Linked DNA regions of Homo sapiens: region 2 is linked to region 1. The links come from fine-mapping of genetic effects on gene expression. Tissue or cell type: whole blood. Region 1 holds a variant in brackets; the other region holds the start of a gene. All regions are shown on one strand. Distances are from middle to middle.

Evidence for each region. PIP is the estimated chance that this variant, and not a neighbour inherited with it, causes the effect.
Region 2: TPH1 starts here. The variant in region 1 is fine-mapped to the expression of TPH1 in whole blood (TOPMed, PIP above 0.99). The same link has a PIP of 0.9 or more in sun-exposed skin and thyroid.

Annotation. Positions count from the first base shown.
Region 1 is chr11:18,068,706-18,076,814 of GRCh38, forward strand. No RefSeq gene overlaps it. Among named protein-coding and RNA genes, the nearest start is that of TPH1, 26 kb to the left of the region's middle. The variant C/T (reference allele first, on the strand shown) is at 3,991.
Region 2 is chr11:18,041,222-18,049,330 of GRCh38, forward strand. It overlaps TPH1 (tryptophan hydroxylase 1), which reads right to left and starts at 5,048. Exons shown (of 11, transcript NM_004179.3): 1 at 5,020-5,048.

The DNA of each region.
Region 1 (8,109 bases):
CAGGAAAGCTAAAATTCAGAACCTCCCTCTACAGGTGAGATATGGCCAAGCCCTGGGTTGGAATGAGAGTGGTCTGAGTGATTTCCTTGTTAAGTCCCAAAAGAGGAGTGGGTGGAAGCATTTATCTGCTGTCCTTAATTGTCATGGAGGGTGGGCAGTGGTGGAAGGGTGCTGTTGAGCCTGCATATAAACTACAGGGAGATATTCTCTCACTAAATATATACATCACTTATAGTTGTGTAATCCTCAAGAGACCCCCACATCTCCGACTAGCATAGAAGTTGGAAGAGTGAAAGTACATAGCTTCAGGAGAAGTGAGATGGACCTTGAACTTTCAGAAACTGATGGAATGAACAGCTATTAACTAGCCCCCTTGTCTTCCTCCTATCTTGAATTGTCACCTCCTTAGTCCCACTAACTGAGCACAGTGCTTAACACACAATAAGTTCAAATCACAATATACTTTGGAATGAATGAATGAATGAGAAGTGTTAATCTACAATTCAGTTTCTCTCTTACGGGTTCAATAAGCTTCAACAAAGCACTTGGTGATCACATATTGGAAATTCATCTTTGACTGAAGACATGACACTCTCAATAGAACCTATGTTCTATTAACATCCCATTTCTCCCAGGGAGGGCCACATCGTCCGCCCACTGAAACTCTCCAAGGTCCAATAGCAATCTTACTGGAGTGCAGTTTGAGAGAACTGGTCAAGAGTGATGATAGGGGCTTTACAAAGAAAAAATTGAGCTCAAATTTTAGAGCAAGAAAAAATGGATTTTAACCAAAGATAAGTATTCCCAAACTCTACGATGTGGCAAATAAGCTGATGGTAGCTCCTCTGTATTAGACACAGACACAGATAAAAATCAGTAGACCAATCCAATTCTTCTACTAACAATCACATCAACTACCAAACTTCTCTTCTGCTCCTTCTGCACTTGTTTCCAGAACCGACGTCCACTCCCCGGGACAACCCGCCACATGTACACTGGCTCCGCTGCCCAGTGTTTCTGTTGTTTGGAATTATTTAGGCAGAGCTGTAACCCCTTTCCCATAACTACCCCCTCCCCACCATCCAATTGCTTTCTTCTGGTTCTTTTTATCTACAATTTCAAAAGAAACATTTTGGCTCCCATTGGCAACAAATCCTTGAATCTCTTTCTCATCATTTCTCTAGATGAGAGGCTTAAAGGGGAAATAAGACAGGAAGAATTTTTTTTTCTTTTTCAATTAACTTCAATTTCTTTCAAGTCTAAGTAAACTCTGGCCCCAGAACAACCAGGATGATATAATTATGGAAACTATTAATCTCTCCATCAAAGGAGAGCCAGCTCATGGTTACGGAGCAGTTGGCACGTTCCTCCAAAGGGTTTCTGCAGCATGATGTTCCTGGTTTCCCTCGGAGTCACAAATGCTCAGGGTACACCTTTTAGCAAGTAGGCAACTTCCTAAGAAAATGAAATAATCCATGAGTACTTTGTGAGTTGTTCTGGGAAATTGGGCATTTTTCCTTAATTGCTCTAAAGAAATAGCCAACTCACACTAAAGCATGTTCAAACAGAATGAAAGAGAAAAATCTAACATTTTCAGATCAGTCAAGGCTCATCCAAAATTGTGAAATTTGGATCTTTAAAGACCAGTCAGATATCACTTGATGTGAGCAACGAACAAAGGGGTGCATCTGGAACAAGAAGTCTCCAAATTGCTTTGAATATTGAACATCATGGAAATGGCAACAATCTCTAGAGGTCACTTAGGACAAACAGAACAGTTATCTGGTTTGTTCAAACCTAAAATAAATATAAAAAGAAATTAGAGAATTTAATTTAGAGATTTTATTCCAGGGCATCAACAAACTTTTGTTCTTCCAATGACAACAGAGTACAGACTTCTCTGTGATGGGGGGCAGGGGCAGTGTTAAAGGATTTAGGAGTTTCCTCCAGAAATTCCTGCCAATTGGCTTATTCCTGGGTACAGATAGGAAAAGTCCAACACCAGTTGCATTTTGAAGGAAGCACATTCATAGATTGACAAAGGCCATCAGCCTTCCAAAATACAGCCCCCCAAAAGAACGAATTTGCAGAGATGCCAAATTCCTCAAATGGTTTAGGTTCAACAGGCACCACTCAAAACAAAACTACATGATCGTATGTTGAGTGACATAATAAAGCCATAGTATATGCATTTGCTTGAATTGTGGGCTGTGATTAATATATACAATCCTTACCCACTGACTGCTTTCAATGTATACTGCTTCCTGGAAGCAAGCCCATACTTCAGGAAGTCAGGCTTCTCCAAGGGAACGGGAAGCCTCTTTGTTCCTTCTTCCCACTATCCTGTTGTTGGAGCCTGCATGCACATTGGGCCTGAGCAGGAAAGTGTCACTTCTGTGAAGAGACTGTTCACAGAACTTTAATTTCTCTTGTAATCATATAAAGCCTGAATGGTAAGGGGGAAAACCCATAAAGGTCATTATAAACAGATCCCGTGATGTCAAAGGAAAAACAGCTGGAGAGAGGGAGTTTAATAAGCAGCCTTCTTTTATTACAACAGGCTTGACGTCATTGATCATTTATTATTTCCAACACTAAAACATAAAGCCATGTGCTACACTGTGGACCAGGATGAAAAGGATATGTGGACTTTTCTGAGTATTTTAATATCCTTTTATTGACAGTAGATAGAAGATCTGAACAAGGACTGGGAACAGGAAATGATTTTAGCGATTTCATTACAGTAATAGAGAAAAGCATTACCAATGGCAGCATTTGGCAGATGGTCTGGTAAGTCCTGAACCTCTAAACAGCCTGCAGGTCAACAAGCTCAATATTGATACAAGGTCAGTATGTAATTATGAGGTGTTCTAGCAAGCAGAATAGTTTTTATAAATATGGGCTGTAGCCTTGGCAGTGGAACACAGGAAGCTGGTGTTTAAAAGTTAATTTAGGACGGGTGCAGTGGCTCACTGCAGCCTGTAATCCCAGCACTTTGGGAGGCCGAGGTGGGTGGATTACTTTAGGTCAGGAGTTCGAGACCAGCCTGGCCAACATGGTGAAAACCCATCTCTACTAAAAGCACAAAAATTAGCTGGGCATGGTGGCGGGCTCCTGTAATCTCAGCTACTCGGGAGGCTGAGGCAGGAGAATCACTTGAACCCAGGAGGTGGAGGTTGCAGTGAGTTGAGATCGCACCACTGCACTCCAGCCTGGGTGACAGAGCGAGACTCCGTCTCAAAAAACAAGGAAAGGTGTTTAGAGGCAGCACAAAGTATACAATAAGACCACGACTAAAGAGTTCTTGATGCTCCAGTACAAATCAGATTTGCAATGAAATATCAAGCATGGTACATCTTTACTTAGTTTAGCTCTAGTGAAAAATAAACATGGCTGTAGAATTTTCAGAGTTTTGAGACTTTTCAGATCTCACTCAAGAAAACCTAAGAAGTGATCAGCCAATTCATTTTAACCAACATCAAACATCATTTTGGTGAGGCCCCCTTAGAAACAGATTTCCCTGGAACAAAACATTAGTGTTTGGAAGCTCCCTAATATGTGAGATTTGTACAGGCCTTTACAATTTCCAGTGTTAGTTTAATCTCATTAACACTTCAAGTAATCCTGCAGGGTAGGCAATTTAACCTCATCTCTACTCTATAGATGAGGATGCTCAGAAAAGCTAACTGACTTGGTCAAGGTCATACTGACCCTTGATCACCTTGATCAATGGTTTTCTTTTTCATTTTCACCACTAATGTGTGTTCTATTTCTGTTTGATATGATCTATTTCTGTTCAATATTCTATGTATTTTAACAAAATCAAAATCGTATTGCATATCCAATGTGTTGTTTCCCTTTTTAAAAAACATGCTTCCCATTATGCCATACCTGCTTGGTCAAGCATGGGTGTGAAATATAAGTTCCTTACAGGAAATATCCTTATAGGAAACCTTTCTGTAGAAGGCTATGATTTTGAGTGTCCAGCGC[C/T]AATTCATCACACGGAGCTACTTTTCCTAAGCCCTAGGTGGAGCAGTCATGTTCAGAGGTGAGAACAGTGGATCTGGTGTTCAGCTTCAAATGTACTATTTCCTTGTGAACTGTCACTTATAAGCTGTAAATCTCTCCCAATTTAGTCCAGTGTCTCTGTACAACCTGTCTCTTTCATCGACATTGTTAGCCCTTTAAATGTTTGTATTCCTTGGAGCTTTGTCCTAAGTCCTTAAGCTGTATCTCTAGCCCACTCTCTCACAGAGTTCCAAGTCTGTATGGAAATGGGACATCTCCATGTGGATGTCCAACAGGTATTCAAAATTGAACACGTCTTTTACCCACCTTTACCTGCAACTCTTCCTGGATTACTTCCCTATCATGATGAATGACGCCATCATCTATTCAGTCACCTAATCCAGAATTCTGGATTTAACTTCTCACTCTCCTTTGCTTCAAACTGATGCCCAAATCCAGTTGTGTCTACTGCTAAACCTCTCTGTATCAAGCCCCTCCTCCCTCAGAAGGCTTTCAGTGATCATGACACTTTAAGGGCTTCTCACTGCCTTCAAGGTCACACTCAGCATGGTGATGTGCCACTGAGGACCAGAGAGTTTCCCTTTTCCACTACGTTTTACAAAAAAATCCTCCTCAGCCCCATGAGGCCTGTGGTTTAGATCTCAAGGACACACAAGAAATCAATCAGTTGGCTCTTCAGAACCTTATATCATGGATGGTTTGTGTCTCATCCAGAATTGGGGAACTTTCACTACCCTGCATCCTACCCTTCTGTAATCCCACAGACACTTCCACATTTTCTCTGTCTGTCACTTATTACACCATTCCCGGTGCCATTTTTTTTTAAAGATGGGAATGCAAATGATCATATCCCAAGTAGAATTTATTATAAGTTAAATTTACTATAGCGATTTGGGCATATCTTACAGACAACCTAAAGCAGGAATTACTGCTGGAACCCATGAGACTGTGACATGAAGCTGGAAAGCGGCTGAGCATTAAGGCAGCTTTTCTTTCATGCTGTTTCAGTGAGAGGTTACTTCAGTAAAGACGTGTAACAAACTACCCCAAGATTCAATGATTCAAAACAATAATCATTTAACTACTCATCACAGATCTGTAGGTTGGCTGCAACTCAGCTAGGTTAGGCTGGACTCCAGGTTGCAGATTAAAAAAAAAAAATTTTTTTTAGAGGATGCGGTCTTGCTCTGTCACCTATCCTGAAGTGCAGTGACACGACTATAGCTCACTGCAGCCTCAAACTCCTGGGCTTCAGGCAATCCTCCTACCTCAGCTTCCCAAGTAGCTGGAATTACAAGTGTAAGCCACCACACCCAGCACCGGCTGCAGACTGGGTTTAGGTTTGCTCCATGTTTCTCATCCTTCATGGATCAATGGCTACCCAGGGCATGCTCTTCTCACGGTAAATGACAGGAGCACAAGCAAACTGCTAAAAGTACTCTGCTTACATCAGCTCCATTAACATTCTATTGGCCAAAGCAAGTGACTTGGTCAAGCTCAAAGTCAAGGGACAGGGAAGTACACTCCATTCACGGAGAAGCCATGGCAAGGGCACGATACACAGAGGTGAAGAATCGAGAATAATGATCCAGTCTGCTACAGGATGCATGACCTCTATGCAGACCAGCTTCTTCCTCTGTTCTTCTTACACATGACTCTGGAATTCCAGGCCCACTAGGTCAAGATTTTTTCTGCTTTGTCCACAGTATTTCTATTACACAGATTTTGTCTGTTTTGTTTACTGCTGTCTTCCTAGTCCTTAGAATACCTGGTACATAGTGGATGATAAATATGACTGGCTGCCTCCTCCCAAATAGTGCCCTCAGCCTTGTAAGTTACGTGGTCTAGAGTCCTGTGTCCTTGAGCCAACCTGAGTTGTCCAGCTTGGGTTAGGAGTAATTCCCTTATTAAACCATACGCTGTAACCGGGGGAAGAATGTGGGCAGTCCAGCGGCAATTTTGGAGAAAGGAACGTGGATGTGCAGATAGCCTAGCTGTCTCTTCCATGTGATCTATCAAGACCTTCATGCTCCAGTCCATGCCTCCCCACAGTATGCAAGTACAGTATAGTGGCTAAAAGAATATTCATTAGGCTAGGCAGGTCCAGATCCAAGCCCTGGGTCAGCTACTTACTACCTAAATAACTTTCAGCAAGTTATTTTACCACTCTGAATCTTCATTTCTCCATCTATAAAATGGTGACAATTACCTTATGGGATTATTGCAAAATTAAATAATATACCTAAAGACCTTTACAGAGCATCTGACACATAGTAAATCCTCAATAAATGGCGGTCATCTCTAACAGGAAATTAAGTCTGGTGTCTACCACATCCTTCTGTGTCCTGAGGTAAATTTCGTATCACACTCATTTTAATTTCAACTTTAGTTGATTGTGTTGGGTCACACACTTAGCCCAAAGTAGCCAAATCACAGGTGACTCACACTGCTTGATACAAAAAGACTAGTAACTGCGCAAGAATTTCTCTCTCACAAATTTAAAGAAATACCAAGAGAATAAAGTGATTAAGCTGGCAGAACACAACCCCCCAAAAAAGACAGGCTGGTGTGGTCTTGAGAGACCACAGACAAGCTGAAGTCCTAAGAAAGAAGAAACGGAAATAAGGAAGCCAGGTGACACAGGGACTCAGAGCAGACCCTGATGCCACCTCCTTGGGTACAGATCCTCTCCCCTCCAGGTCTAATTTCAGTGTGGCATGACCCTCTCCCAGAATTGTGATCCTTGCCAGAGCCCTGAGGCATGAACAATTAGGATAAAATGAGAATGCCCTACTCCATGATGTTACTACACTATAGAATCTTGCAAACGTCCAGGGAAAACACAGTTGTTCAGAAAGGGCAATCACATGGGCACAATCATAATGATAGAAGGAGTAGCCTGATATTACGAAATCCTTGGCTGTGAAATGTGAACTTATGGAGGTTTTCTGGCTTTTATATTACAGATGTTCCTTGGGTTGTATAAAATTGGATTTAAGCAAATGTGACCTCATGCAAATTATCTAAGATACATCATAAAAGCTTAGCGATGCAGATTTTGCATTCTATATAGAAATACAAAGCAGTCAGGTTGATGAACAAATAGTATGAGAGGTGAGTGGAGGGCTAGCAGCACCACCACAAGGTTCCCTCCTGCTTCCAGTCTCACCTGTGGTTTTTTTTTTGGTTGCTGGACTGGCCCACAAGACTCAAGACTACATTGGCCCAGGCTCTTGTAAGTTTGACTAGCCCAATGACATAAAAGGAATAAGCATCATTCATAATCAAATTAAAGCTTAAGTTGTGTATCATTTATTTGCTTTTATAAACCTTTAACAGGAAGGCCAGGTGTGGTGACCTGCAAGCCCAGCACTTTGGGAGGCTGAGGCAGGATTGTTTGCAGCCAGGAGTTCAAGACAAGCCTGGGAAACAGTGAGAACCCATCTCTACAAAATCAATAAATAGGCCAGGTGTGGTGGCTCACGCCTGTAATCCCAGCCCACTGAGAGGCCAAGACAGGCGGATCACCTGAGGTCAGGAGTTTCAGACCAGCCTGGCCAATATGGTAAAACCCTGTCTACTAAAAATATAAAAATTAGCTAGGCTAGGCATGGTGGCTCACGCCTGTAATCCTAGCACTTTGGGAGGCAGAGGTGGGCGGATCACAAGGTCAGGAGTTTGAGACAAGTTTGACCAACATGGTGAAACCACGTTTCTACTAAAAATACAGAAATCAGCCGGGCATGGTGGCATGCGCTTGTAATCCCAGCTACTCAGGAAGCTGAGGCAGGAGAATCGCTTGAACCCGGGAGGTGAAGGTTGCAGTGAGCCGCGATTGCGCCACTGCACTCCAGCCTAGGTGACAGAGCAAGACTCCGTCTCAAAAAAAAAAAAAAAAAAGAAAGAAAGAAAGAAAGAAAGAAAACCCACAAAATTAGCCAGGTGTGGTGGTGCGTGCCTGTAATCCCAGCTACTCAGGAGGCTGAAGCAGGAGAATCGCTTGAACCTGGGAGGCGGAGGTTGCAGTGAGCCAGGATCACACCACTGCAATCCAGCCTGGGCAACAGAGTGAGACTCTGT
Region 2 (8,109 bases), 27 kb before region 1:
TCCTCCAGAGTGGGGACAAGGCTTTCTATTTATTTTGTAAACTAAAGGCCTGGCCAGCTCTAGATACATATGCACTAGATGGATAACTGCTAGCCAGGAGAATTCTAGTTCTGCTTCTCAGAAGATGAACCAGAGATCTACTTTGGTATCTTCTTAACCACCTATTTACACTGCAAAACAGTGTAAGGAAATATGTGGAATGTGAAGTCAGACATATCTAATCATTGGCCTCATGTTTATCAGTGTATGACCTCGGGCATGCTACTTAACCTTTCTAATATAAAACTAAGTTACCAAACAGCTACCAGAACTCATAACATCCAAAATTCTCACTCGTTTTAAAACATCATAACATGGCGTGCTATTCTGAGATTTTCCTCACGGAAGAAACTAGGATATTTCAGGTACCAAGAAGAGTTAGAGATACATAATTCAAAATTTAACTAACATTTATGAATTCATTGGGTTCAAGTTTCCAAAACTACCAAGATTTTTAAATTATGCCAAATTAGTCTCTAGAACTAAAAACAATTTCTATTTCAAATGCTATAAAACTAAATGGCCAGTTAAACTGAATAATTATGTGGATTTTTCTTTGATTCAAATAATTACTAATGGTAAAACGAATAAAATTTCAACCCAAGCGCATTCACATGTGTGAAGCACCACAGTCAAAGTTAGGGCAGTAAAAATTTAAAAACAAGACAACTTGCCTCCAAATAATTCACACACTTGTTCATGGGGAAGGAGAAAATGGAAGACAGACTTCTCAATAAGTACAAATAAGCAGAAAAGAAGGGACACTGAGATCCCAGCCATGACACCCAAGGAGTACACTCAACCACCCCTCACCTTCCCACCACCCCACCCCTTTGATCAATATCCCATGTGCTTCTAAAGATGACTGAATATAGCTTCTAGCCCATCCATGAGTCTCTGCTGAGAAAGGATTTATGGATGAGAAGCAGGAGATCTTAAGAGATTTTCCACTTCAAAGGAAGTGACCATTTCTTAAGGTAAACTTAAGTATACACAGAAAATTCCAAATTGGTGGCTCTGGGGCTAAAAATTCAGGGATGGCCTCAGATAAGCATTCTCAAAATGTTTTTAGGGATGTGAAAACTTTCAGAAACGTTTCTTACCCATTCAATTACCACTCAAAGATTGACTTTTCTTATCAAACACAGAGTATGGGCGACGTTGTCCTAAAGCGTGAAAATGTAAACAATAAAAGAGATGCAAAATAATATAACAAATTGCTAGTAATAAATCTTTCTGCAAATCCATCTAGGCAAGTTATAATCTTTATATGTATCAACCTCTTTATTTGCAAACTTGGAGGGAGGATAATTAACACCACTCTCATGATTATAAGGAGGATTAAACATATATAAACTTATGAGAATTAAATAGTTATAATTTACATAAAACTCTTAGAACAGTTGCTAACCTACACTAAGTACTCAATAAGTATTATCTCAAGTAATGGGGAATATGTCCCAAATTTTCCAGTTTTCAAAAAAAGAGAAAATGTTCAAGTAATGAAATAGACATTCTAAATACCTCTGGCTAAGAATTTTTCTTGCCCTAGGAATTAGGCATTTTACAAGATGGTTAACATATTTCTTACAATAGCAAACATGTGGAAAAGTTGCTTTATGATATAAAATGTCAGTATTGTTTTGTATCAAGGTGATTTCAGTTTCATTAATTTATTATAAAACCCCTAAAGTGTATTAAATTCCAAATCTCAAGAAAATAATTCAGCAGTTTTTTTGCAAACAAATAGACAAAGACCCCAAAGTAAAATGTACTGAGTTACCCTATAGTTACTGAGTCCTCATGTTTCCTGATACCATCACCATGACATGCAGAAGGAAGAGGATTCTGCAAATATAAGCTATTTCCTGGCCAACCACTAGCTTCATCATGTAAATCAGCTTTAAGAACTGGGAGCAAGGATCAGAGAACAGTAAAGAAAAGTTACCACTGATTTTTTCCAGTCAGTGGTAACACTAACAGAATTCTAGATCTCCTGATAATTTGTCTTTCAACAACCTCTTGGAGCTTGGAATAAAACTCTTCATATAAAACTATATGAGGCCAGCTGCTGCGGCTCATGCCTGTAATCCCAGCACATTGGAAAGCCAAAGTGGGTGGATCACTTGAGGTCAGGAGTTGAAGACCAGCCTGGCCAACATGGTGAAACCCCGTCTCTACTAAAAATACAAAAATTAGCCTGGCATGATGACACATGCATGTAATCCCAGCTACTCGGGAGGCTGAGGCATGAAAATCGTTTGAACTCAGGAGGCAGAGGTTGCAGGGAGCAAGATCGTGTCGCTGCACTCTGGCAGGGCAGTAGAGTGAGACTCCGTCTCAAAAAACAAAAACAAAAACAAACAAACAACAACAACAACAAAAACTATTATGAAGAGCCTGGGTAACATAGTGAGATGCTGTATGAACAACAACAACAAAAAAAATTGTTTAAGTTAGCTGGGCATAGTGGCTTTCACCTGCAGTCCCAGCTACTAGGGAGGCTGAGGCAGGAGGCTTGCTTGAGCTCAGGAGTTCTAGGCTGCAGTGATCCATGATCGCGCCACTGCAGTCCAGCCTGGGTGACAGAGTGAAACCCTGTCTCTTAAAAAAAAAAAAAAGAGAATTTCCTTCAATTTTCAAAACTGGTCCCTAAGCTTTCCTGGAAGTTGCTATTGTGAGAAGGTGCTAACAGTCATGGCTCCATCCCTTTAGGGTTCATAATTATTTTCTTTACCTGATTCTGGAATGGATCAAGTTTTGTGCCAACATCTCCTTAGTTGGTGTGGGGAGAGGAGGGTGAAGGATACATTAATTGAAATTTATGATATGCAAGGCATTTATATTATTTTGATGTATTTAAAGACATACATTATTATATTAAGATGTAAGTGGCTCACACCTGTAATTCCCAGCACTTTAGGAGGCCGAGGCGGGCGAATCATGAGGTCAAGAGAGCGAGACCATCCTGGCCAACATGGTGAAACCCCGTCTCTACTAAAAATACAAAAATTGGCTGGGTGTGGTGGCGGGCGCCTGTAGTCCCAGCTACTTGGGAGGCTGAGGTAGGAGAATGGCTTGAACCTGGGAGGCGGAGGTTGCAGTGAGCCAGGATCACGCCACTGCACTCCAGCCCAGGTGACAGAGCAAGACTGCGTCTCAAAAAAAAAGATGTGGAAACACTCCTCCTTGTTTAAGTCATGGTAAAAATGAAGGTTCTCAAAAGGAACTTTTGCTAAGAAACTAGAAAACTAGAAGAAAATTCTCACCCTCTTTTTTGTTCCCCCCCACCCCAAAATAATCTTACAGGACATAGATCTTTGATCGTTACTAAAACTTGGCCATAACTTTGCTTGGTTGACAGAGCTTATGAGGCATCAGTTATTTTTTCCTCCAGTTAACCCCAAACCGCTTTCAGAACCTCAATATTTTGCCTTGTTACTTTTTCCTTTCCCCTTTCAACCTACCCACCTCCTCCTACTCTTTCAGGAAAACAAAACAAAACAAAACAAAACAAAAAAACACAATACTAACCTGGTAAGATAAAATAGGTCACACTTGTTTGAATCAGTGTCTCATCAATACATAAGCATTTTATTTTTAAAGCAACTCTCTGATCAGCTAATACCAACTGGTACCCTTTTCTCATGAAAGGTAGAGTCATTTTCCTACTGCGTCTCCTGGCCTAAGGATGCACTGTGTAGGACATACCACTGGAAATAAGGAAAAAATACCAAGAAGACACTCAGAAGATCAACAGACCCGACCCTTGGGAGAGGTCAAGGCGTATACAATGACCAACTCTTTTCTTCCCTTAGTTTAATCAGTAAAACAAGTGTAATTTATATTTACCGGATCTAGGAAGCACAAAGCACTACTGAATTAGTCTTTTGAAAGCATGGATATTGTTTGAAGACAGAACTAAAAACTGCAAGGAGGATTCTTTCAGAGGGAGGGAATCCTCTACGGAGTCTTGATTTTCTTTTCTAAATAAGGAGTGGGAATGAGGATGAAAGTGTAGATGAAATACAAAAGAAAACACTATCCATGAAAAACAGTATTCTAGGAAATAAAGGCACTGGCAGAGAAAATGGAAATAGAAGACACATCCCTATCTGGAGATAATCTAATAATACATGTACAAATGGACCTCAGTGATAACATATGTAAACCACAGATTATAACTTTACAGAAACATTGATATTAGAATTCCACCCCCCCCTTTTTTTTTTAACTAACAGGCACAAACTTTTCCTGGGTTAGCAAGTTCAACTCTAGTCTTTTTCCTGCTAAGTCAAGTAGAGTGGGACATCAATGAGAAGTTCATTTTAAACCTCTGAAAATCAAACGCCAAAGGCAAGGTTGAGTTCACACGGACTCTTAACTGACTCTAAACCGCAAGGACCTAGTCCTCTTTGTCAATTGCGACCTTGCAAAAAGCTCTCAGTCGTCTGTTGGGATGGTGGTGATGATGGTAAGTGCGATGCTGAGAAGCTTTGCATCTGAGACTCCTTCTTCTTCGGGAGGCTGTTTAAGGGAAGCTTCCCTTCATGGGAGGAGAAGAAAAAAAGAGACATTGCCCTTTGATGGAGAGGAAGGGAAGGAAGAAAAATCTTACTGTTTCTGCCAACATAGAGGAGTCACACAGACTTGGGTTGGACTCTGGACCCCACTTTCCTCATCTGGGGACTCAAGAAATATCTACCAGAGTTTGTCATGAAGGTGAAATCTCATGATGGCTAAAGAGTCTGTTCCTGGCACACAGGAGGCACTCAGAAAGTGTCTTTTCTCCCCAAACAGCGTGGGAGGAAAGAATAGTAAGCGTTTATAGGGGTACAACTCCGACCTCCCAAATCTGACTCCGCAAGACCACCAATTTACCTCCCGGGAGGGTGACTCTGCCCAGCCCCGCGCCTGCCAAGCGCCGCCAAAGCCTCGACGGCGGTCCCCGGTGCCCGCGGGAAGGGCCGCCTCACTCACCTCGGGCGCCAGTAGGTGCAGGCTGGGTCGGCCGGCGGCCCCGCGCTGCCTGTCTCTTATAGAAGCGGGCGTCGGAGCAGCTGGGCAGCGGCCAATGAGAAGGGAGGGCCGGCGGGTGTGGGGCGTGGGCAGTCGCGTCCGCCTGCTCCCAGAGACTTGCACGCCTCAATCTCTGCGTGTATCTGACTGGTGTTTTAATTAAGTGAATGTTAGGCCGTCCTTAACCACACAAGTCTGACTAACACTGAACAATCCAGAGTTGGACATTCTCTCCAAACCAAGATAACGCCTATTATCGACACAATGACCTGCTATAGGACTGCAGTGCTTCTCGCCTGTTGGAGACCAAAGCAAGAATCCCCCCACCTCCCACACCTCTCTGTGCTTCTGGGCTATTTAATAGCCCAGTCCTGACTTATTATTCTCTTGGTGCTTTCCCCCATTCCTTGAGGCAGAGCAACAGTTAGTTGAACTTTTTAGAAGAGAAGTGTTCAGTGCCCTTCTAATTAAAAAAAAATTTTAAGCTGCAAGCAGAGAAGCATTCTATATTAGCAAAAAATCATATTACGTGCTATTGTGAACAACAGGACATAGAGGCAAAAAATTTGGAATAGGTATTTACTGGTTGAGTAGTCAGTCGATTAGCTCCTTATCCCAAAGGACTGTACACATAACGAAGTATATTATAGGACATTCTTTCCTCCAATGTTTGAAAAGTAAGATTTATTGATGTATAATTAACATACAGTAATATTCACCCTGTGAGGTGTACAATTCTGAGTTTTGACAAACATGTATAGTTGTGTAACCACCAAACGATCAAAATATAGAACATTTCTATCACTGCGAGAAATTTCCCTTGTCTAAAGTCTCTCACCTCACACCCAGCCCCTGGCAGCCACTGATCTGATTTCTGTCTCCACAGTTTTGCCTTCTCTGGAATGTCACAGAAATGAAATCATGAAATATGTACAGATTTTTGGCTCCTGGCACTTAACATAATGCTTTTGAGTTTCATGCAGGTATTAGTGATTTGTTCCTTTTCTTTCCTGTTTTCTTTTTTGCTGAGTATGGATGTACTTTAAAGCTCAGGATCTTTACAGCTTTTCTATGCATTTTTCTTTTATCTGTATAATGCTTCTATGAGGTACATATTATTTGTATTTTACAGATACGGAAATTGAAGCACAGGGGTGGCTCTAAGACGTTATTCTGGCACAGGCTAGTAAGTACCATCAATAATCAAGCAAAAGTGTCTGAGTTTAAATCCAGTGCTCTTACTTCAATGCCATAAAAAATACTGGTCAGGGAGAGACCTTTCAGAACCAAGCTGAGGTCAAAGATGTCTTTCCTAAACTGAAAGCCTTTCCTTGTAGATCTGGAACACGATAAGGATGCCCAATTTCACCACTATTATTCAACATAGTACTGGAAGTTCTAGCTAGAGCAATCAGACAAGAGAAGAAATAAAGGGCATCCAAACTGGAAAGGAAGAAGTCAAATTATCCTTGTTTGCAGATGATATGATCCTATATTTGGAAAAACCTAAAGACTCCACCAAAAAACTATTTGAACTGATTAAATAATTCACTAATGTTGCAGGATACAAAATCAACATACAAAAATCAATAGCGTTTCTGTATGCCAATGGTGAACAGTATGAAAAAGAAATTAATCCCATTTACAATAGCCACAAATAAAATAAGTACCTAGGAATTAACCAAAGGAGTGAAAGATCTCTACAATGAAAACTATAAAATACTCATGAAAGAAATTAAAGAGGACACCAAAAGAACAGAAGGCTATTCCAAGTTCATGGATCGGAAGAATCCTTATTGTTCAAATGTCCATGCTACCCAAAGCAATCTACAGATTCAAGGCAATCCCTATCAAAATACCAAAGACTTTCCTTACAGAAATAGAAAAAACAACCCTAAAATTTATATGGAATCACAAAAGACCCAGAACAGCCAAAGCTATCCTGAGCAAAAAGCACAAAACTGGAGGAATCACATTACCTGACTTCAAATTATACTGCAGAGCTACAGTAACCAAAACAGCATGGTTCTGGCATAAAAACAGACACATAGACCAATGGAACAAAATAGAGAACCCAGAAACGGATCCACACACCTACAGTGAACTCATTATTGACAAAGTTGCCAAGAACATACAATGGGGAAAGGACAGTCTCTCCAATAAATGCTGCTGGGAAAACTGGATATCCATCAGAAGAATGAAACTAGACCCCTATCTCTCACCATATATAAAAATCAAATCAAAATGGATTAAAGACTCAAATCTAAGACCTCATACTATGAAACCACTGCAAGAAAACATTGGGGAAACACTCCAGGACATCAGTCTACTCAAAAATGTCTTGAGTGATACCCCACAAGCACAGGCAACCAAAGGAAAAATGATTGCATGGGATCACATCAAGTTAAAAAACTTCTGTACAGCAAAGGAAACAATTGACAAAGAGAAGAGACAACTCACAGAATGGGAGAAAATATTTGCAAAGTACCCATCTGACAAGGGATTAATAACCAGAATATATAAGGAGTTCAAACAGCTCTATAGGAAAAAATTTAATAATCCAATTAAAAATGGTCAAAAGATTTGAATAGACATTTCTCCAAAGAAGACATACAAATGGCAAATAGACATATGAAAAGGTGCTCAACATCCTTGGTCATCAGATAAATGCAAATCAAAACTACAATAACATGTCATCTCACCCTGGTCAGGCAATAACAAATACTAGAGAGGATGTGGAGAAAAGGGAACCCTTGTACACTGTTGGTGGGAATGTATAATAAATTAGTACGACCACTATGAAGAACAGTTTGGACGTGCCTCAAAAAACTGAAAATAGAGCTACCATATGATCCAGCACTCCCACTGCTGGGTATATACCCAAAGGAAGGAAATCAGCGTATTGAAGAGATATCTGCACTCTCATGTTTGTTGCAGCACTGTTCACAATAGTCAAGATTTGAAAACAACCTGTGTTCATCAACAGACGAATGGTTAAAGAAAATGTGGTACTTACACACAATGGAGTACCATTCAGCCATAAAAAAGAAT